Linked DNA regions of Homo sapiens: region 2 is linked to region 1. The links come from fine-mapping of genetic effects on gene expression. A gene starts in region 1. The other region holds a variant in brackets. All regions are shown on one strand. Distances are between the middles of the regions.

What was found.
Region 2: its variant is fine-mapped to the expression of TGFBR3 in whole blood (INTERVAL, PIP above 0.99).

Annotation. Positions count from the first base shown.
Region 1 is chr1:91,880,195-91,891,963 of GRCh38, reverse strand. It overlaps TGFBR3 (transforming growth factor beta receptor 3), which reads left to right and starts at 5,813. Exons shown (of 17, transcript NM_003243.5): 1 at 5,813-6,086. RefSeq lists silencers at 5,547-5,686, 6,037-6,116, 6,127-6,336 and enhancers at 5,479-6,241, 6,242-7,005.
Region 2 is chr1:91,678,504-91,690,272 of GRCh38, reverse strand. It overlaps TGFBR3 (transforming growth factor beta receptor 3), which reads left to right. Exons shown (of 17, transcript NM_003243.5): 17 at 6,416-9,930. The coding sequence ends at 6,534. Among named protein-coding and RNA genes, the nearest start is that of CDC7, 180 kb to the right of the region's middle. RefSeq lists enhancers at 5,455-5,534, 6,014-6,517. The variant C/T (reference allele first, on the strand shown) is at 5,772.

The sequences.
Region 1 (11,769 bases):
TTTTCTCATTAATTGAAATTTGCCAGCTGCAATTTTATCAGCGAAAACCAAATTCTAATCTCGTAGATAGATATAGAAAATGTGGCTTTAAATTATGGCCTTAGGTTATGATGAAATAAAACACCAACGAGTATGAACTGGGTCTTTATGAGCGAATCTGAAAAATAAAGTAGTAAATCTGTCTGTGATAATAGGTTAACAGAGCAGAAAATAAGGGCAGATACTGTAGTTTGTAGATCAGCATCCTGTCACAACAATTTTGGAACATTTGGTTCATGTTCTGTCACACATTCTTAAGAGTAGTTGTGCAATTGCCTCCAAGCTGTTGGCTGTATTAGACAAACTTTAAATTAGTGAAAGGAATCTATTTTTATGTGGTGGTGGTGGGGTAATAGTTCTTCTAAACAAACTTTCATTTTTATCTTTTGAAAGTTTTTAAAGAATCGAGTTTTTTTTTTTTTTCTTTGAGACAGATCTCAGTTCTGTTGCCCAGGCTGGAGTACAGTGGCACGATCACGGCTCACTGCAGCCTCAACCTACCGGGCTCAAGTGATCCTCCCACCTCAGCCTCCCAAGTAGCTGGGACTACAGGCACATACCCTCACGCCTAGCTAATTTTTGTATTTTTTGTAGAGACTGGGTTTCACCACATTGCCTAGGCTGGTCTCGAAATCCTGGGCTCAAGTGATTCACCTCGGCCTCCCAAGTACTGGGATTACAGGCCTGAGCCACTGTACTTAGCCTTTGAAGTAAACTTAAAAAAAAAAAAAAGAGAGACCAGGCTCAGTGACTCACACCTGTAATCCCAGCACTTTGGGAGGCCGAGGCAGCTGGATCACAGAGCTCGAGACCAGCCTGGCCAACATGGTGAAACCCCATCTCTACTAAAAATACAAAAATTAGCCAGGCGTGGTGGTAGGCACCTGTATTCCCAGCTACTTAGGAGGTGGAGGCAGGAAAATCGCTTGAACTCAGGAGGCAGAGGTTGCAGTGAACCAAGACTGCACCACTGCACTCTAGCCTGGGTGACAGTGCAAGACTCCGTTTCAAAAAAAAAAAAGGAAATATGAGACTCTCTTTTTATGAGTAGAAGGTGTCTTTCACCTGTAGCACAAAGTGGAGGTTCAGAGCATGAACGGATTCTGTAGCCAGGCCACCTGACTCTGCCACTTGCTGGTTGTGTGACCTTGGGCAAGTTACATAACCTCTCTGTGCATCATTTCCTAATCTGTAAAATGAGGATAATAGCTGGGCACAGTAGCTCATGCCTGTAATCCCAGCACCTTGGGAGGCTGAGGCAGGTGGATCACGAGGTCAGGAGTTTGAGACCAGCCTGGCCAATATGGTGAAACCTTGTCTCTACTAAAAATACAAAAATTAGCAGGGCGTGGTGGCGTGTGCCTTTAGTCCCAGCTACTCGGGAAGCTGAGGCAGAAGAATCACTTGAACCCAGGAGGTGGAGGTTGCAGTGAGCCAAGATGGCGCCACTGCACTCCGGCCTGGGCAACAAGACGGAAACTGTGTCTCAAAAAAAAAAAAAAAAAAAAAAAAAAAGATTATAGAGAAACAACCAAATGATTTTTCTAATGATAAAGTCTTTTAGACTTTATCTGATTAAAGAAAGTCTGATTAGCAGACTGTGAACTGCTAATCAACAGAATCTGGAGACATGCCACTAAATCTGAGTCACTGTCAACATGTGAGTCCACACCTACAGGAGGGGTGGTTCCTTGTATGAAAAACAGCCTCAGTAAATCACTGAAACTCTGCTGGCAAACATTTTTAATGCAAGTAATGCACCTCAATTTCACCCCCCTGCTTACAATCCTGTTTGAAACAATTCCAAACAAATGACCAAGAAACCACTTTGGACCAAAAGAAAGCTGGTATCTTACAGTAACAAATACTGTAGCTTGAATGCAGTTCTCCATGAGAAATTAGTGAAAGGGAGCATCCATTCCCTTAGAAATCAGTTAATATTGCCATTAATAAGAGGTTGGGCAACTGGGCACGGCAGCTCACGCCTGTAATCCCAACACTGTGGGAGGCCAAGGTGGGTGGATCACTTGAGGTCAGGAGTTATGGCAAAACCCTGTCTCTACTGAAAATACAAATATCAACCAGGCATGGTGGTGGGTGCTGGTAATCCCAGCTACTTGAGAGGCTGAGGCATGAGAATCACTTGAACCTGGGAGGTGGGGGTGGGGGTTGCAGTGAGCTGAGATCGCGCTGCTGCACTCTAGTCTGGGCAACAAGAGGGAAACTCCGTCTCAAAAAAGAAAGAAAGAAAGAAAAGAGGTAGGGGAACCCTTTTTTATAGAGCTTTGCTCAGGAACCAAAAATTCAAGTTTATTTTAAACCTTTCGTCTATGCTTGAGGTATCTGGATTTCTGCTTTTAATATCATATTGTAAAGATTTAAAGAGAAAACATCTCTGTAGACATTGTTAATTTTGTAAATACTGATGTAATTTCTTGTGTTTTTCCATATCATCTACTGAAACTAAATAGCTCAGAATTAAAAAAAAGAGCCCTTTTATTTTGCCAGTCTATAAAGCTTCTGATGACAGGTAGAAGAACCTGGTGGTTAAGGACTTAGGTTTTGAGGTCGGTGGATGTGAGATTGAATCGTGGACAGGTTTTGAGGTCGGTGGATGTGAGATTGAATCGTGGACAAGATCTCAGTTTGTATAAAGGCATGTATATCGGCCTCATTTATACATATTCTTAGAGGGCTGTGAGAAGTAAATGTGTTTATATGTATAGAATTTAGTACCCATGGCCAGGCGCAGTGGCTCATGCCTGTAATCTCAGCAGTTTGGGAGGCCAAGGCGGGTGGATCACTTGAGGTCAGGAGTTCGAGAGCAGCCTGGCCAACATGGTATGAAACCCCGTCTCTACTAAAAATACAAAAATTAGCCAGGCATGGTGGTGCGTGCTTGTCAATCCCAGCTACTCAGGAGGCTGAGGCAGGAGAATTGCTTGAGCCCAGGAGGCAGAGGTTGCAGTGAGCTGAGATTGCGCCACTGCACTCCAGCCTCGGCAGCAGAGCGAGACTCTGTCTCAAAACAAAAACAAACAAACAAAAAAGAATTCAGTACCCACGCTGGCTCAGATGTTGATGGTTACTGTTGTGAATCTGGCTCTACGGGGACCAGTCACTTCATCACTCTTTAAAGACAAGACACTCCTAAATTATCTACCAGGCCATTTTATTTAGAAGGCCTTAACATGATTGATACATTTAATTTAATTTTATTTTTTTGAGACAGAGTGTTGCTCTTGTCCAGGCTAGAGTGCAATGGCACCATCTCAGCTCACTGCAACCTCTGCCTCCTGGGTTCAAACGATTCTCTTGCCTCAGCCTCCCAAGTAGCTGGGATTACAGGTGCCCGCCACCATGCCTGGCTAATTTTTGTATTTTAGTTGAGATGGGGTTTCACCATGTTGGTCAGGCTGGTCTAGAACTCCTGACCTCAAGTGATCCACCCACCTCGGCTTCCCAAATTGCTGAGATTATAGGCATGAGCCACCTCACCTGGCCGATGCATTTAAATGTGGGATTAAATATTCACACCTAGTTCAAGTGTTCACATCTGTACTTGAAACTAAAACTTGTTAACAAGGCATAAATACTGTATTAGTCTGTTTTCATGCTGCTGATAAAGACATACCCGAGACTGGGCAATTTACAAAGGAAAGGTTTATTGGACTTACAGTTCCACATGGCTGGGGAGACCTCACAATCATGGCAGAAGGTAAGGAGGAGCAAGTCACATATCACGTGGATGGCAGCAGGCAGAGAGAGCTGGTACACGGAGACTCCTGTTTTTAAAGCCATCAGATCTCGTGAGACTTATTCACTATCATGAGAACAGCACAGGAAAAACTCATCCCCAAGATTCAATTACCTCCCATTGGGTTCCTCCTAGGACACATGGGGATTGTGGGACTTACAATTCGAGATGAGATTTGGGTGGGGACACAGCCAAACCATATCAAATACTGTTTAATTTGAGTCTAGGAGAAATCTTAAGGCCTTAAACTTAGACTTTATAAAAGCAGAGGCTAGCTCCATCTGGACTGTTTATTCCTTCAGAATATTATGCCTACTTGTATTCCCAATGCCTGACTCAGGGCTCTCCCATAGTCAGTGCTCAATGAATATTGGTAAGGAAAAAAATGGTTCAGTGAGGAGATTTTTGCAGTAATTCAGGTGACTGATGACATTTGACCTTTGTGAATGAATCTCCAATTCTGCAATTGGGTGGATTCTCTGCCTATAGGTACAAGAGGAAGAGGACGAGAAATATTTCCTGTTCTCTCAATAACTTTCCAAATAACATGTCATAAGAAGCCTCCTCATTCTACTCTCCAACATATTAAAAGCCTAGGATTGAGCCAGGTGCAGCGGCTAACGCCTCTAATCCCAGCACTTTGGGAGGCCAAGGCAGGCGAATCTCTTGAGCTCAGGAGTTTGAGACCAGCCTGGGCAACTAAGTGAGACCCCCGCCCTGCCAACCCCCTCTACAAAAAATACAAAAAGTTAGCTGGGCGTGGTGGCATTTGTCAGTAATCCCAGCTACTCAGGAGGCTGAGGTGGGAGAATCGCTTGAGCCTGAGAAGCGGAGGTTGTAGCGAGCTGAGATTGAGATTGTGCCACTGCACTCCAGCCTGGGCGACAGGGCGAGACTCCATCTCAAAAAAAAAAAAAAAAAAAAAAAAAAAGGCATAGGTCCATAGCCCTTTAGAACTGGAAGAAGCCTTCTAGGCCAAGCCCTTCATTTGAACTGAGCCTTGACGGGTATTAGCCGTTAGCCATTTGTGGAAGGTCGCACAGTAGTCAGGACTGGAAGTCTGGTCTTTGAAACCTGTCAGTCCACGGTCATTTCACCTGCCTGTTTGTAAAACAATGTCCTGTTACTTAAGTATACTTTTTAATAAGAAAAACTGGGTGTAAGCAAGAGTATCAGAGTGGTGTTCTGGTGCCAGCAGTTCAACTTCTGCAGCGTGTACTTCACAGGCACAGGTACTTAGGACGTCGCACAGGCACAGGTACTTAGGACGTTGCCCCGCCGAGACTGTCGTTCATATCGCGCCCACCTCCGGGTAACGCCGGTAATGCTGACCTAGCTCCATTATTTGTATTAATTTATTTAGCTAGCAGGGGGAACGGCTGGGTAATGCAGTCTCAGCTGCTGGAGGGGAAGAGGCAAGACTCCGCCGGCGCCCACCATCAGAGCGTGACAACAAGCGGGACCGGAGGTTGGGAAAAAGCACAGGGACAGAATGAATGTGTGCATGGGGGAGCTCTGCTGGGGAGAGGGCAAGAGGCTGTGATCAGATTATCTGAGGTTTCAGAACTTTTATATAAAGACCAAGGAACCAAATGAAAATCCAACTCTTCCAGGGAGCCCTGGAAAGTTCAAAGGACCTCGTTTGAGGGAGCGAGTCCCCGCAGCTCGTGCCCACGTCTCCCTCGCGCTTCCCCCAGGACAGGGGCCGCCCCAACCCGGGCACGCTGAGCCCGGCCGCGCCCCTAGCCCCTTCTCTCTCGGCCTCCTCGTCCCGAAGGGAAGCACAGGCTCGAGCAGCATTCGGGGCTCATCCATCAGCCGCGGAGGCAAAGGGGGAGGAGAGAGGAGGCGGGAGGCGGGAGGCGGGAGGAGGAGTTTCTGGGCGGCCGAGAGCCCCCGGTGGGGCCGGCGGAGGAGCGCCCTTCCCCCCGCGCGCTGATTGCTGTGGCGTCCTGCCCGTCCCCGCCCGCGTGTGTGCGAGGGAGGGCGAGTGCGCCGGGTCGGCCTGATGGGGGTAATCGAGGGTTTCGGGGACGCCGAGCGGCACTTTCCTCTTCCCAGCGAGTGAAGGAGGGCAGTCGGCGGCTCTCGCGCCCCGGCCACTTTCCCTGCGCGATTCCCGGAGCTCCCTGCAGGAGGTGAGAGTCCCCAGCGGGTCCGGATGGCGTAGTTTTGCCGCGGCGCAGCAGCTGCCGGAGCTCGCCGCCGCCGAGCGCTGGGCGGGGAAACTTGCCGCCGCTTTCCTCCAACTTGCTGCGGGTGGATCTCCGCTGGACACACCGCCTCCGAGGTACGTGCCGGCCCAGCCCCGCGGCGCTGCAGCCCGCCCGGGCTGTGGGCTCTGCAGGCTGCGCGGGTGCCCGTCGGCGCGGCGCGGGCTGCCAGTGCCTACTTACCGGCCAGGGTCGCTCCAGCCGCCAGGACCTCCGGCCTTGGGAGGGAGGCGCTGGTGGGGCGGTGTTTACCCTCCGGGGAGCAGGCACCGGTGGCCAGCGGTGCGTGGGCAGCGGCCGCACGGGGCAGGCAGTGCCCCCGGCGATGCGCAGTGCTGGGGAGGAATTCTCCACGCCCGCCCTCACTCTTCCTCTCCGCGGGTCCTTCTGACCCCTGCGGGGCGCGGCGGCCACTTCCCTCCGGGCGCGTGACAGCTTCGGTGGGAATGGTTTGTTGTGGGTTCGCAGTCAATTGCCGTGGCCCAGGCTGTGGCTCCCGGACTCGTGCACGGACGCGGTTTGCGTTCCCCGCTGGCCGCGCCCTCAGGGTGCCTTGCGGGCTGAGCCGCAAGCTGCAGCTCGGCCCCCCCCCGCCCCGGTTTATTTTGAAGGCTCTCTTCTTGTATTCATTTGGTTAGGACAAACTTGGAAATCTTGGACTGTCGCTAGAAGAATCTGCTTGCAGACTTGATCTTATTAGGGCATTTGCCCCGCTTTGCAGAATCGCATAGTGTCAGGAGCCGACGTGTCAAGCATGAATTACCTTGGCAAAGTAGAACTTAGTGGATTTGGTGTCCTCACGAAAAGCTGGAAGAAGAAAACCGTTCCATTTCCCTAGCTGTGAAGTGAGGATAGTAGTACTTGCCCCGTAAAGTTGCTGTGAGCATCTAATGATTTAATGTGTGTGAGGTGCTACAACAGTGCTTGGCACCGAGTAAGCACCGCACGGAGGTTAGCGCTGCTTGCCGCTAGCCCTGCGGTGGCAGGATAGGAGCGGCGAGGGCAGAGGATAGTAGGAGTGACAGGCTGTGCTGGGGAACCAGGCGTATTCTGAGTTTTATGTCCTTCCGAAGAAGTGAGCGGTTTGGGAGAAGTCTCCACAGGTAGTAAAAACACACGTCAAGACCGTTTCTTCTTCCTGAATGCAGAGTGCAAACAGTTACTTCAGTGTGAACTCAGTTGTTTCTTTTGGATAATAATAACAGCTAACGTTTTCTAAGCCCATACTGTGTGCACTTAATCCTCACAGCATCTCTATGGGAAAAGCACTATTAATAACCCTATTTTACAGATAAGACACTAGAGGTTAAGTTACTTGTCCAAGATCATACATAACTTTCTGTTAGTTCTGACTCCAAAGCTACCTTCCTTCCTCAGCGGAGAGCGGCAAGTGCAGGCCGATTTGTGTGTACATAGATTTGTGTGCATAGTCCATGCATCTTCTCCCATCTTTCAGCTTTCTATTTGAGCTGAACGCATATCTCTTGAAACACACATAAGGTATCTGTGATGAATTTAGGCGATTTTACATACTTATGAGGGTGCCCAATTAAAGTTCCTCTGAAACTGGCCCCAAATAATTATAAATAGAACTCTGACTTGTATTAATTAACATGGAAATTTTTTTTTTTTTTTGGTGACAGAGTCTCGCTCTGTCCCCAGGCTGCAGTGCAGTGGTGCGATCTCGGCTCACTGCAACCTCCACCTCCCGGGTTCAAGAGTTTCTCCTGACTCAGCCTCCAGAGTAGCTGGGACTACAGGCGCGCGCTACCACGCCCAGCTAACTTTTGTATTTTTAGTAGAGACGGCGTTTCACCATGTTGGCCAGGATGGTCTCGATTTCTTGACCTCGTGATCCACCTGCCTCGGCCTCCCAAAGTGCTGGGATTACAGGTGTGAGCCACCACGCCTGGCCAACATGGATCTTTATTCTTAATTTCTTTTATTAATTCTCCAGACATTGTTGATCACCATTACTTGGCTTCCTTAGGAAACAGCTTGGGGTTGGCACAGGAGGCAGGGAAATAATTCTTACCCCCTTAAGGGCTATTAACATGAAATTGATTTCATGCCATTGTGTCAGTTAAAGGATGTTGCTCTATTTCTTGCTGTTCTTTGCTTTTGGCTTTATTTCTGCATTGTTTAGTGTTTCAAGGCTTGAGCGTTTTTTTTTTTTGGCCCTTCAGTTTGACATTTGTCAACTTTAATTTTTCCTGTTTTGATGGAATCTGACCGTTACACGGCAGCTTTGCCTAACAACTGTTGATTCAGCTCATGTTTTTAAATATAAAAATCACCAACATAGTTTTGAATCCCAGCACTTCAAAGGCAACCCGTGGGGAGTTCATTGTTATTTTGAATATTAGTCAATAGGGGGAGCATAACACACTGTTGATATCTATAAGGCGCATAAACCCGTTTTTAGAGTATTAAACATATAGTTTGAAAGGGGAGGGCAAAATATCTAGCAAAATAACTAAGTTGCTTTTGGAGTTTATAATGGAGGACTAGATTTAATTTGAACTGATTAAGAATGACCTTGAGGACAGGGCCTGTATGTTGAATATATGTCAAGAACTCCATGGTGGCTGGACAGATAGATAAACACACATATAGTTTTTTTTCAATTTGTTTCCTTAAGTGGTGTGTAGGCCAGGCACAGTGGCTCACACCTGTAATTCCAACACTTTGGGAGGCTGAGGTAGGAGGATCACTTGGCCAAGGAGTTCGAGACCAGCCTGGGTAACATAGTGAGACCCCCATCTCTTTAAAAAGTGAAGTTTGTATGTAAACTAATTTTGTGTGGTTTGAATAATATTTCAACTTACCTGGGAGAAATGGAAATCCAGAGGAATTTGTTGTGAATCCTTTTGTAATGATCCTCATTTGTGTTTTGTAGAAAACTGAATATAATGAATTTGTTCTCAGGGAGGTTGGTGTGTTCACAATCCTGTCATCATCTTTCATTAACATCTTCTAAGTGCAAGACAATAGGGGATCAGTAATCCTAAATAACAGCAGTTCTATTACTGTGAATTCCTCAGAGGCTTACGTTAATATTCAAGTATAGTAGTAGTTCAGATGTATCATATTTGATACTAGTATAAGTGTGATGTGTCTATGAATACTCATACTTGTAAACATAAACAATAAGAATATGCTTGAAAAAATCACACTTGACATTTATCTATTTATTTATTTATTTTTTGAGATGGAGTCTCTCGCTCTGTCGCCCGGGCGGGAGTGCAGTGGTGCAATCTCAGCTCACTGCAAGCTCCACCTCCCAGGTTCACGCCATTCTCCTGCCTCAGCCTCCCCAGCAGCTGTAACTACAGGCACTCGCCACCATGCCCGGCTAATTTTTTTGTATTTTTAGTAGAGACGGGGTTTCACCGTGTTAGCCAGGAAGGTCTCGATCTCCTGACCTTGTGATCCGCCTACCTCAGCCTCCCAAAGTGCTGGGATTACAGGCGTGAGCCACGGTGCCTGGCCAAACTTGACTTTTAAAAAAAGTTTTTGGCTGGGTGTGGTGGCTCACGCCTGTAATCCCAGCATGTTGGGAGGCCGAGGCAGGTGGATCACTTGAGGTCAGGAGTTCGAGACCAGCCTGGCCAACATGGCGAAACCTGATCTCTACAGAAAATACAACAATTTGCTGAGCGTGGTGGTGCACACCTGTAATCACAGCTACTCCAGAGGCTGAGGTGGGAGGATCCCTTGAGCCCAGGAGGTGGAGGTTTCAGTGAGCTGAGATCGTGCCACTGCACGCCAGCCTGGCAGACAGCGAGGTTCTGTCTCAAAAAAAAAAAAAAAAAAGGTTTTCAATTTTTGTCTGTAGTTTTGTAGGCCAGTTTCCTTTCTTGTTTCTTGCGTATTATGTAGTATTTTTTTATTATTTATTTATTTATTTATTTTTGAGACAAAGTTTCGCTCTGTCGTCCAGGCTGGAGTGCAGTGGAGTGATCTTGGCTCACTGCAACCTCCGCCTCCCAGGTTCAAGAGATTCTCCTGCCTCAGCCTCCCGAGTAGCGGGGACCACAGGTGCATGCCACCACGCCCGACTAATTTTTTATATTTTTCGTAGAGACGGGGCTTCACTGTGTTAGCCCCGATGGTCTTGATCTCCTGACCTCATGATCCACCCGCCTCGGCCTCCCAAAGTGCTGGGATTATAGGCGTGAGCGACTGTGCCCGGCCCCATATTATGTAGTATTGATTTACCTTTATTTCATTTACTACGTTAGGGTCCCATGGATCCTATTTTAAAATAACTTTCAAAATTAGTTGAGTCCCTTCTTTTTAAATCTTAGCATTGCGCTTATACTACAGAGTGGCATTTATTTAGGATCTCATTTAGTCTTCTATGCTTTGCTCTAGTTTACTCGAGTAATTCAACAAACACTTATAACCTCCTACTCCCTACTAGGCTATGGTTTCTGGTCTTGGAGCTTGGCAAATTAATTGTCCTTATTCAGTGCTCTGATGACTGGGGGCCAAAATGCCTTCAGGTTGCTTAGGGCTTTCTTACAGAAAGCCTTTCGTTGGCTTGAAGGAAAGTGTTGTTCCATTGTTTTTAAGACTCAAAAGAATTAATTTTTCTCTCTTGCATGCAAACTTGGTTGTGACTTGTAAAAGTCAGGTGAGTGCTTGTTTTTCTGAGGGCAGAATCTGAGCCTAAGAGCCCAGGGAACTCAACTGTCCTTTGAGTTTTAAGAAGGTGATCACTGCTGACTTCTTTAGTATATAAGTGAAGACCAATTTCCTGGCTTCAAAAATCTGTGAAAGGTCCTGACTTTACATTTTAAGCTTAACAGACAGAACAGTTAGAGTTTAGACTGTGACTGTGTAAGTAATAACTTTGCTGTAATATTTTGCCTGGATGATTCTGCTCTGTGGTCATTTTGAATTACCTCCCTTCTTGATAGTTCATTTTGAAACATCTTTTTGTGGTGCTTTCATTGCTGTTGGATAAAAATTGTAATTGTCAGATTTATTTTTTATTTTTATTTATATACTTATTCATATAAAATATGTAAATATATGTAAAATCTCACATATATATAATCTATAACTATATATTGTATAATATATAATATGTATATATTTTGAGACAGAGTCTTACTATGTTGCCTCGGCTGGTCTCGAACTCCTGGGCTCAAGTGATCCTCCTGCCTCATCTTCTCAAATTGTTGGGATTACAGGCATGAGCCACTGCTCCTGGCTGTCAGATTTATTAGCTACTAAAGGACAGTCTTCTTTTTCAGTCTTAACAGTTACTTAAAAGTGATTTTATTGCCATTTCCATCAGTCTACTGGAGCATTTTTCTTATATTTTTATTTTTATTTTTATTTTTTTTGGGACGGAGTCTCGCTCTGTCACCCAGGGTGGAGTGCAGTGGCGCGATCTCGGCTCACTGCAAGCTCCGCCTCCCTGGTTCACGCCATTCTCTTGCCTCAGTCTCCCGAGTAGCTGAGACTACAGGCGCCCGCCACCACGCCCAGCTAATTTTTGTATTTTTAGTAGAGACAGGGTTTCACCGTGTTAGCTAGGATGGTCTCAATCTCCTGACCTCGTGATCCGCCGTCTTGGCCTCCCAACGTGCTGGGATTACAGGTGTGAGCCATCGCGCCCGGCCATATTTTTAAACTTATTTAAAACAATTGTAAATTTAAAAAATGTTAACTTTTTTGAAATTTGCATAACTTGAGTTAGATAAATGTTTTTAGGGGCCTTTAATGTAAAAGCAGTCTTGTATTGCC
Region 2 (11,769 bases), 200 kb after region 1:
GCCCAGTGGAGCGAGGGAGGAAATGTAGAGAACTATTCTGCTTCTCATATAGTTCAGCCAACCCCTCTTGCTTATAGCCATATGTTCAAGGGAGGTTTCCAGAGGTGCCTGATGCCACCATTCCCTGAGTTTTTTAAGGGTTCGGCGACATAAATTGCTTGTTTCTCAGTTTTTCCCACTGTTGGCTTAGGTTTCGGCTCTCTTGAGTCTGCCAAGTCAGTTGCTACTCACCCATTTCCTCACCAGCTTCCAATATATTTTATTGCTGTTATCTTTACTTTTGTTATCTTTGTTTTCATGTGTTTATGCCTTTAAAAGTCCATTTACTGTCATTCTGGTAAGATTTGGGAAAGGAATGCAAGTCAATGCCTTTAAATGCACTATCTCTATGCAAAGTCGTACCCTTGCTTTTTTTTTTTTTTTTTTTTTTTTAATCAGTTTCTTAAAGGGAGTCCTTGGAAAATTACTAGTCTGCATCAGCATTTCCTTTTTACGTAGCGAGAAAACTGAGCCCAGAGAACTGATGTGACAAGCTCAAAGTTACCCAGGCACAGCGGCCAGGACTGAAGGCTTGCTTTCTTGATTCAGAGTTCACTCTTTTCTTCCTGTTCTGTTATTACAAATTCAAAGGTCACGTAGCCATAATCTTTTTATCCTCCTTCTGCTTATCAGATAATAAACATTAATTAACATGTGTTTCGGTTTTTCTTTTTGCCTCTGTTTAGTGTCAGCTAAATTTTTTTGGTTTGTTCACTCATGTATTCGTTCTTTCACTCAACTTATTCAATGGATTTTTTAAGCTATTGTTAAATGCCAACGCTATTCTAGGCACTGGTAAAATAGCCATGAGCAACAGAAAGTCCTTGCTGTCGTGGAGTTCCCATATATTCAGAGGAAGAGAATAACCAAACAGACTGATTATAAGCAGATTGGCTCAGGCAGAAACCCAGCTACAGGCACACATGCCAACCTTTAGGAAAGCAATGACCTGATGAACTGTGTCAGAAAAATGGAGAACTGACAAGGGAAGTCTCACTGGAGAAAGAAGAAGTGTTTCTAATCTGAAGAATTAAGTTTTCTATTAACCTTTTATGGAAACTGAGGGGAGGGTGAGAAGAAGGGGGAAGGGTATGAATGGCCAGATGCTCCGGGAGGTGCTTTGTTTTTTGAGAGAAAAAGACACACCAATAGACACCAGGAAAGCCGAAGGCATTCATCTTAACCTCTGTGTTTAATGGTTTTATAAAATAATGATATGGGCATTTGAGTGAAAAGAGAGTGGAGCCTGCCTTCTTTACAGTCACATTGGGGTTTCCGTCTGTTCCAGCTGCATCTGTCTGATCCCTGGGACTTGGTCTCTTGCCTCCTACCTTATCACACCTTAGTCTGTCTGCTTGCTGTTTCTCTTTTCATCGGGCTACACTTGGGAACCTGGAGAAACCTCAGGCCTCTGAACACATTGGCACCTCCCGAGCTACTTCTAATGAAAACCTCTTACCTGACTTGGGTGGACTTTTGGGTATGCGCTTGACTTTTGCTTTAAGAACACATGGTGTGTTCCATGGAGGGTTGTTGAAAACTGCCTGATGAGTTGGGACGGGCACACCTAATTCAAAACTTCAGCATTTTATTATGCTCTGTGAAACAGTGTTCCTTACACGCTTAGATTTTTTTTCTGCTTACACATCAGAGCAGCCTTAAAGTTGAAAAAGCTTTTATTACGCATTTCTTGTTTTAAGTACGCTCACCCTAATAACCCTGTGAAGTAGTGATTATCTCTGTGTTGACTAAAGGGAAACACAACTAATATACCTACTAAGGTAGCAAGTCTAGCCATTGAACAAACCAGAGCTTCAAGTCCAGTTTCTGACTCAGGGTTGTAGCGATAGCTGTGGAGGACAGCCTTCCTCCTCCACCTGATTTCTCTTTCCCTCTTGCTTTTCTTCTTCTTCTTAGTTATTATCAGATTTTGCATCCTATTCAGGGGCCACAAAGGCAGGGAAGATACCACAGAAAACCAAAGTCCATATACAAACAGGTTGGCCACACTGCAGGAATATAGAAAGAAAGTAGTAGGCAGGACATTGTGAAAAACTTTAATTCTTGATATAGTCTTTTCCCCGTGACTTCTAACAACATCTAACTCACCCCTCCTGGAGAATTTTGCTGCAAAAGAAGAGTCTTTTGTGTGGAGGCTGGGGAGGAATGAAATTTGAAAATGATAAAAAGTGATTGAAGACTTCTCTAAATTAAAGGTAGTATCGTTCACTCTGCTTAAAGAGTGAGCTTGTGAATTAATTACAGTTAGGAGATCAAGAAACTGAGACATTAATTGATAGAAAATCGCATCCAACACGTAGATCTAGAAGAAAATATCTTTATTTTCTTTCTAGCATCAAGGAATATTAAATCTAAAGTGTCCCCAGGTATATGGTTTTCAATCCTGTGCTTAAATATCTCCTGAGAAGGAGATTCCATAAATTCCCTCTATAACTAACCAATCCTCATAATCAGCAAGTTCTTTTCTATCTGATCTAAATCCCTAGTCCTGCCATTTAAACTCATTTCCTCATGTTCTGCCCTCCAGGGAGATAAAGAACAGCTGTCTGCTCCTATTTGTAATAATCCTCATGGAGAGTATTTGCAATAGTCTCCTTTGGCCTAAATACCAAGCTTGCCCTCACCTTTCTTTTTAACTCTTCTCTTGTTTCCCCACAGAGTCCTCCCATGCTATTCACATCTTTCTTGAATAGTTTCTTCCCCAGGACCTGCCATGGTGAAAGACTTAGAAATAAGAATACAGTTGTAATATAGACGCCAAAGAGGTAGCAGGAAGTCAGATCTGGGCAACTCCATGCCATGCTAAAGAAATAAAACATTCTCCATTAAGAAATGTTTTTTGTTTGTTTGTTTTTGCTTCTTTTTTTCTTCTTCCCCCTGGTAGAGACAGGGTCTCTCTCTGTTGCCCAGGTTGGAGTGCAGAGGCTCTTCACAGGTGAGATCATAGCTCACTGCAGTCTCTAACTCCTGGCCTCAGGAGATCCTCCCCCTTCAGCCTCCTAAGCTGGCACTGTAAGTGACTGCACCTGGCTTTGTTTTTCTATTTCTTGAGGCATCTCTGGCAGTATCTAGGCCCAGCCATAGGCTAACTGTGAGATGGGTGGAATTAATCCTTAGTGTCCTTATCCTCAGTGTACTCTCCTCCTCCAGAGTATGTCAGGCACCAAATTCCTCTCTCCCCTACTCACTCTCCCTCCTCTCAAATCTCTGTTCCCTCAATGTGGTTTGATATTTTAGGAGGAAAGCAGGAAGACTGAGTACATTTCCTCTGCTGGCCAAGTCTGATATTTATTTACAAGCAAGGCGCCCTCCTTGAATTTCTTAGATGTGTTAATTGGGCCTAGTCTGCTTAGCCACGAGGTCCTCCCTGCCCATCTCCTTTAGGAGCAGCCTTGTTATACTTGTCACCCAAGGGATGTTTTAGAGAAAGTTGGTGCTCCACGAAATCAGAGACCACTGCAGTGGAGAGCAGACAGCCAAAGACCCATCTCAGAAAACCCAGGGGTCTCTGTTGGCCCATTAAGTAGAAGCATCTGTACATTCAACTTTCTTCCTCATGGTGAATTTTTCTGTAGCATCACTTCCATTTGACAGTGAAAAAACTTAATCTGTCAAAAGGTAAGAGTTATTTTTAAAACATGGTTATATTGAGAAACCTTGCATCTTACATGTGAAAATAGCCACAGAACTGGAAAGGATGGTCTGAAGAGGGGACTTTCAATATTTCCCAGCAGATTCTCAGACAGAGACTCACCTTGGCCCATTATTGGATCAAAGTCAATATAATATTAGGTTAACTTGACTTATCCAGCTGGTGAGATGCATCCTGCAGTCTTGAGTGCGGAGGCTTCTTTGTTTTGTTTGGGGTTTTGTTTTGAAGTGTTTTGCATTACCAGAACAAGAGTTCCCAAAACTCGGGAAGTTGAAAGGTCTCTTTAATGGGCACGGATGAAAATAAACTGACATGGCAACAAATTATATTTGGCAAATAGACATCGGAAAGCAGATATTCAGGCTTCCTGGGCAGGGCATAGTCCTGGCACTTTTCCTGAATGTGAATAATCAAGCACAGGGCAGATCCTGGAGGAGCACACTTGCTCCCTATTGCTTGATGAAGCAAGGCCTTCTCTTTTACCTGCTGTTGGGCTGAGCAAACAAAGCCCAGGTGAGCCAAAAAAGAAAAAGATGGAGTTGGCCTCCTGCTTTTCAGATGTATCCTTATTAAAATAGGAAAAAATATTTTTAAAATGTGGTTCATGCATAGCCACATTAGTCCTTCTGATTGATTATGTGAGGATCCAGCTGGGTATGGACCAACATGTGGTTTGTAAGGGAGTCAAATTCTTAAAGTATATCTAGAGTTGTTTGGGTCTCTGGAGGTTGTTTTTGTTTTGACCTCAGAATAGTTAAGAGATTTGATTCCCTTCTAGAAATAAAGCTCCTACTCTGGGGAAAGTGAATTTTTGGCAGAAAGTTATTGCCATGGAGGCTAATTTCCCCAGCCTTAATTATACACACACATGAAGAGTAGAGGGCAGTGCTGGGGAGGGTCCAAAACATAGGTTTCCAAAAAAGTCAAAAGCAGTGTTTCAGCCGGGCGTGGTGGCTCACGCCTGTAATCCCAGCACTATGGAAGGCCAAGGTGGGCCGATCACGAGGTCAGGAGATCGATACCATCCTGGCTAACACAGTGAAATCGTGTCTCTACTAAAAATACAAAAAATTAGCCAGGCATGGTGGCACATGCCTGTAGTCCCAGGTACTCGGGAGGCTGAGACAGGAGAATTGCTTGAACCCGGGGGGTGGAGGTTGCAGTGAGCCAAGATCATGCCACTGCAGTCCATCCTAGGGGACAGAGCGAGACTCCGTCTCACAAAAAAAAAAAAAAAAAAAAAAAGGCAGTGCTTCTCCGCTTCTCAGGAATATTGACCCCAGTCCCCTATCCATCCCGCCAATCCCAGAAGAAAAGATAATTAGAGGAAGTACAACAAGGGCCAAACTTACAACAAGCACATAAATACTTTGAGGTTGATGCAAAAGTGTGTATAGCTGTGTGGTTCATGAAAGGGGTGACAGGAAAAGCTGTAACCAGACCCAGGGACATGAGCCAGTTCTACATTTTGCAGAACTGCTTTTTTCACAGAGGCTTTTGAGGGGCCCCAGAAAGAGAATGGAAGTAATGGGGCCAAGTTCCTGCACTGGAGGGCAGGGCCTTTCCTCGAGTGTTTTGTTTTAATGAAGCAGCTGGAAGGGTTGCTTATCTCCGGCTGATAGATGTGTATTTCAGCATGACAGGAAAGAGGAGGCTCATTCATAAACAGGCCTGGCCCTCTGGGGTTTCCCACATTGAAGGAGGGGATGCTGCTTACAAGAAGTTTATGAAGTTTATGCTCTGACTTTTCAAAGTAAATGCAGTGTTTTTTATTGGAGAGCCCTGATCGCTTTTCCCTACCTAGAGCCATTTTTTGAGGGTTGCACTGAGGCCGGTTTTGCCGAAGAGAAGACTAACTCTAGGGCCTTTTGCACTGTTAAATGCAAACCATGTGTGTGACTTGAGGTTTCCTTCCTCTCCAAAGCACTGCACATTTGGCACGATGAATGGCTTTAGCTAAAATGCAGTGGGGTGTGTAATGAAAAGTGGGATGCTTAAAGTGTTAGGAGATACTCACACTGCACCCCACAGGGAACCTCAGTGGGGAAGAGAGGCCATT[C/T]GCTGGCAACTGCAGTCCCCATGTGCAAACAGCTAAACCCCTTCCCCAAAAGGTTTTTCCAATAGCAGCTATCCCCCACCCCGGTTTCTCAGGTAATTTATCTGTTTGGCACACAAGGCTCTCTCTACTGTAGCTAGGACAAAGTCTATATTTCACTCCTGTTTTTAACAAGTGCATTCAGAACAAGGCTCCCAAACTTCCAGGGTTCTCTTAACTACAATTGAAAGGTCACACCCTCCAAATCCTACAGTGTCTTTATGAGAGAAGATGGACAGTGTTTCCTGAATACAGGTGCTGGTCAGTTGCCAGCTCACACAGACCAAGTGGTGGTGATTTCATCAAAGGTTGTGGACCCTGAAATCCAGGGACTTTGTCATCAACTCTCAGGGGTCTTAGCCACTAGAGCTGCCTGTCAGTCAGCTGTCTTCTTTTTCCCATTCATGATGCTTTAAAAATAAAACAACAAATAGCAAAACCTTATTTTAGAAGGTATTCCAGCCATCTAGGACCTAGTCTAGTTGCTTCTGCCCTGGTTGAGAAAAATATCAGTTAAAATGGCAAATGCGGAATAAATGATCTTTTCAGGAATGCACATACATAATATGCGTCTTTCTCTGACTCTGCCTTTTCTTTATTAACTGCAGGGGAGACAGCAGGAAGGCAGCAAGTCCCCACCTCCCCGCCAGCCTCGGAAAACAGCAGTGCTGCCCACAGCATCGGCAGCACGCAGAGCACGCCTTGCTCCAGCAGCAGCACGGCCTAGCCCAACCCAGCCCAACCCGGCCCAACCCAGCCCAGCCCAGCTCAGCTCAGCTACTGCCAAGGGCAGGACCAATGGCTGAGCCTCGTGTCCAGACTCAGAGGGCTGGATTTTGGTTCCCTTGTAAAGACAGAGTGAATTTCAGTATAAAGATCACCCGTTGTATTCACCCCACACCCAGGGCTAGTATAAACATGACCCTGGGCTTCTGTACCACACTAGAATTCATGTGAGAAAGCTAAAATGGTGGTCTTCTCCACCAGCCCCTCACAGGCTTGGGGGTTTTCAATGTGAAACACATGCCAGTTTTTAAAATGCTGCTTTGTCCAGGTGAGAACATCCATAATTTGGGGCCCTGAGTTTTACCCAGACTCAAGGAGTTGGTAAAGGGTTAATAGCCAGATAGTAGAACCAGTGAGGAGATGCGGCCAAAGATTCTTTATATCTGAACCAAGATGTAAAACAAGAAATGCTTTGAGGCTTTCTAAGCGATCCTCCTGTCTAATTTGCACCTTTGTCTGGATGCACACTTCTGACCTTGCTGCCACAACCTGTGGGGTCTGATGTGTCCCTTGATGGGTGCTGCCCTCAGGGACTGCACCCTGACAAGTGTTAAGGCAACATTCCTTTCTTGTGCCCTGGGCCAAAACCAATGCTGATGACCTTATCAGCTTCCTGTTTCTTCCCATACTTGCATACACCACTGCAAAATGTCTTAATGCAAATTTTGTATTTCTTACAGGCCTACAGAAATTGAAAATGACCAAAATCAGGAACCACAGATTTGTGCCCATTCCTAATATTTTGTTCTGCAAATTAATGTATAATTTGAGGTGAAATTCAGTTATAAAGTCAAGGACGAATTTGCACAGTGATATATTTCTATGTGTATGCAAGTACAAGTATATAATATGTCACCTGGCACATTCATTTTCTCAGTTGAAGAAGAGAAAATTTGAAAATGTCCTTATGCTTTTAGAGTTGCAACTTAAGTATATTTGGTAGGGTGAGTGTTTCCACTCAAAATATGTCAACTTAAAAAAAAATAGGCCCTTTCATAAAAACCAAACTGTAGCAAGATGCAAATGCATGGCAAATCCTGTCGGTCTCCAGTTGGTTATCTGAATAGTGTCACCAATTCCACCAAGACAGTGCTGAGATTGGAAAAGGGCACTCATTTGGATTGCCTTACTTCTCTTGCCTTAAATATATCCCATATATTTAATATGTCAAAAAGGGCTTGAGGTGAATTTCATTAAATGGAATAATATGATGCCACTTTGCAGCTAAAATAAGCTCAGTGATACCTCCTTGTTAAAAAAAAAAAAAAAAAAAAAGAATGCCAGGGGGGAATTATCATGCTAAATTATTTTACTGCTGAAGATAGCTTCATTGCAAATTATTCTTTTTCCAGAATTTCCCCCAAACAACTTAGAATTCCATAAGTAGAACAAGATAGATTCTACCCCCAAAATATTCATAAGCAAATCCCACTGCCCTTAAAATAAGGAAGTTATGCCTGGTTGTCTGTGAATGGAACCTCAGTAGGTAATCCTGATGAAGCTTAAAACCTTAGGGCAGTGTCTACATGGGAAACAAGTATGTGGAAATTGACAATCATTTTTACCAAATCGTTGAGTAATAATATGACTTACCTGATAGATATACACATTCAATAAGGAACATTTTTTTTTTTCAATAAGGAACATTTTAACTAAAACATTACTTTAGGGCTGAGATTTCCAGGCTATCTACATTGATCTACTGAAAAATTTCTAGATTTCCATATACAAACGAAGAAGACATGAGTTTAGAGAATTTTTTTCCTTTAATTTTTTTTTAACAGAAGGGTATCAGAGTGGAGGACCTAGATTACGCTACCTGTGTTTGAAAATATTGCGCTTTGCCTAACCTTCGGTGGAATGTATTGTTTCAGCATATTCTATGTATAAAAAAGTTTAAAGATGTCTTCAAAGAAGACTAGAGTCTTTAAGTCACTTATAGCTATATTTTACTACAAAATTTGTGTATAAAGATATATTTAAGTGTTTTAGATAAATTTAAGTTACTCCATATGAAATGTTTAATTTCAGCTACTGTGAATTCTTTCGATCAGTCCTTTGCTTTTTTAAAAAATCTTTTCCATCGTGTTAAAAAGAAAATTAGCTATTAGGAGATATTAAAAGATTGATGTCTTAGAAGGACAGGGTTAAAACCTTCTGTAATATATTTAAATATATATTTTTAAGAGAGATGCTACATTGCCAATGATTTTATAAATAATTTAAAATTAATTTACAAATTTATAGATGCAAACCAAAAGATCTTTTTAAAAGAGAGAGAGAGGAAAAAAATCACCTTTTATTTGTTTGGGTCTCATTGTCAGAATTATTATTCAGATCAAGAAATCTGTGTCGATAAAACCTAATCTCATATTGGAGAGTGAATGTCGTTAAGTATTTCTGAAATGTTTCTAAAAAATGAACATGAAAAAAATAAGGTATTTTCTCCCTAGCTTCTCATTACAGTATTTCTAATTGCTTCACACTTTACAGTTTTAATACAAAGTACAAGCTCTACTTTTATAACGTGTACTACAAGTTTCTTTAAAAGTATTGTTGTATTTCAGCTGAACTCTTGTATCTGCAGTCTTTTGTTATTTCTGCAGGCTACACCCTTAATTTGCAGAGGCCATTTTGTTGTTTGTTTGATGCTGAAGCTGTTGTTAAAATGCCCCAAACTCCAAGGCAGATTGTCTGTATAATACGCTATAGCTTTTCACCATGTGGTGTTTACCAGCTGTTACTCTGTATTTTAAAAAGCCAGAGATTTCTTCTGTCTAAACTGTTTCTATAGCATTTTCTAAACAAAAAAAATGGTTTTTTTCTTTGCCTTGTAATAAGATTGTAAATCCATTTCCTGCTTGTGTTCTTAGTGGGCATGATTGTGAGTGTGTGTGGGGTGCTCACACGCGTGCCAGTCTTTTTGTACTGTAACTACCTCATGGTTTGAATGATGATTGTACTGCTGGTTGTGTTAACAGAGCACATTTTGTTGGGTGAGTCCTATGTGATTTTTTTCATGTTTGTTTTATCTGGGGGTTGTTCATGAAACTGACAGATGTTTTTCTAAAAAGGACTATTATCAGTTTCCAAATACAATACTTCTCTCTTCTGGTTTTTCCTGAATGAGCCTGATTTTGTTGCTGGTTTTCATCATCTATGAGGGTAAAACGAGTACCCTTAAAATCCCTGTGGCCAGTTTGAACACCCCTGTTGTATTCTTTTCTCTGTTCAGTGTGTCAGCTATTTTGTGAAGATGCTTAGATGTATAGTTTTGATAACCACAGTTTTAAATCTTTTATCTGTGCATAATAAAAAGATATATATCAGTTATTAATATGTGTCTTGTTATCATTAAATTCTACCCTAAGGCTCATGTAACTTTTTTCACTGTGACTTTCTCCTGAATGGATCGTCTGCTCCGTGTTGATGAGGAAGTGGGAGGAGAAAGGCTAAGAGGTCCAGAGCAGAGGGAAGGGCGGATGGACTAGAAGAAGAGTGCAGCAGGAGCTGTCGCTCTTCTCAGAAAAACATGGCAGGAGACTTGGAAGTGGGTGTCTCACCCTGGAAACCATTCCTGGGCCTTCTGTCAATCTCCCAGAGTCAAAGAAAGAAACATAATATACATTTAAGGTCTACTATTTTCAGCCCCTTCAAATACCCCATTGCTGCTTCCAGCATTCCGTATCTCCATATGGTACCACCGTCTTCCAGTTGTCCAAGCCAGAAACCTGGGAATCTAACTACAGCCTCTTTGGCTCCCCTCTTCCCAAATCAATAAGTCCGAGTGTTATTCTACCTCTAAAATGTCTCTTTCTTCAAACCACTGACTTATTCCTACTCTGACTGTTGTTACACACTGCTCAAGAGCCATTGTCTCTTGAGTCACTGCAGCAGCCTCCTAACTGGTATGCCGACTTTCCATTTTGCTCCCTTCAATTCTTTCTCCACCATGCAGCCAAAGTAATCCTAAAAAGACTCCATTTTGAGGCCTTTAGGTAATTGCCCCATTTGCCTTCAGGATACAGTTCAGATTCCTAAGCATGGTTCCGAGGAGGCTAATCTGCCTGCTTTCCCAGCTACTTCTCTCACCTCTCCGGAGCTCAGTTCTATTTGGCATCCTCACCCCCAGACAAATTTGTAATGAAAAAAGTTCTCGTTCAGTATCAAATATTACATTACAGCATTGAATATGCATTTACAGGCCACACTCCCCTTTTGAGATTTTTAGTGACTCAGATGATTTGGCATCAAGGCCAGCAGCCCATCCCTCACATGTTACACAGGTGGGTACCCACAGAGCCGGAACAGTGTTAAGCTCCATTTTACAGCTACGGTGCCCCCTGCAACCAGCTCCTCTTAGGATATGTGGGAGTAATTGGCAGGTCAATGAATTTTTTTTGCCATTAAACTCTCCTTGTGTCTACTGGAGTCAAAACCTGGGTGATTAATAAATGGGCTTCAGAGAGTCTGTGAAGTGGCTGGAATTGTATGTAGGATTTTATTGCAGCTATGTCTCGGCTGTTGTTTTTGGTGAGAGTCCATAGGCTTTTTGTAAGAAAAAATTATCTTTCTTGTTCACACAATATATATATATAAAATGAATGCAAAGAATACAGACATGTAGCAATGAAAAGGCCTCCATAATCCTCCAACTTGAATATAAGAATACCGATTTAGTGTATGTGTTCCCAGATGTTTCCTTAATTCATATCAACATGTCCATGTCATTAAATAAGATTGGATTATGGCCCGGTGCAGTGGCTCATGCCTGTAATCCCAGTACTTTGGGAGGCCAAGGTGGGTGGATCACTTGGGGTAAGGAGTTCGAGACCAGCCTGGCCAACATAGTGAAACCCTGTCTCTACTAAAAATACAAAAATTAGCGGGGCGGGGTGGCATGCGTCTGTATCCCAGCTACTCAGAAGGCTGAGACACGAGAATCTTTGAACCCAGGAGGTGGAGATTCCAGTGAGTTGAGATCATGTCACCGCACTCCAGCCTGGGTGACAGAGGAAGGCCCTGTCTCAAAAAAAAAAAAAAAAAAAAATTGGATTATAACAGTTGTGACTTGCTTTTTTCTTTTTTCTTTTTTTTTTTTTTTTTTTTGAGACAGGGTCTCATTGTGTCACCCAAAGCTAATTTTTATATTTTCAGTAGAGATGGGGTTTCTACT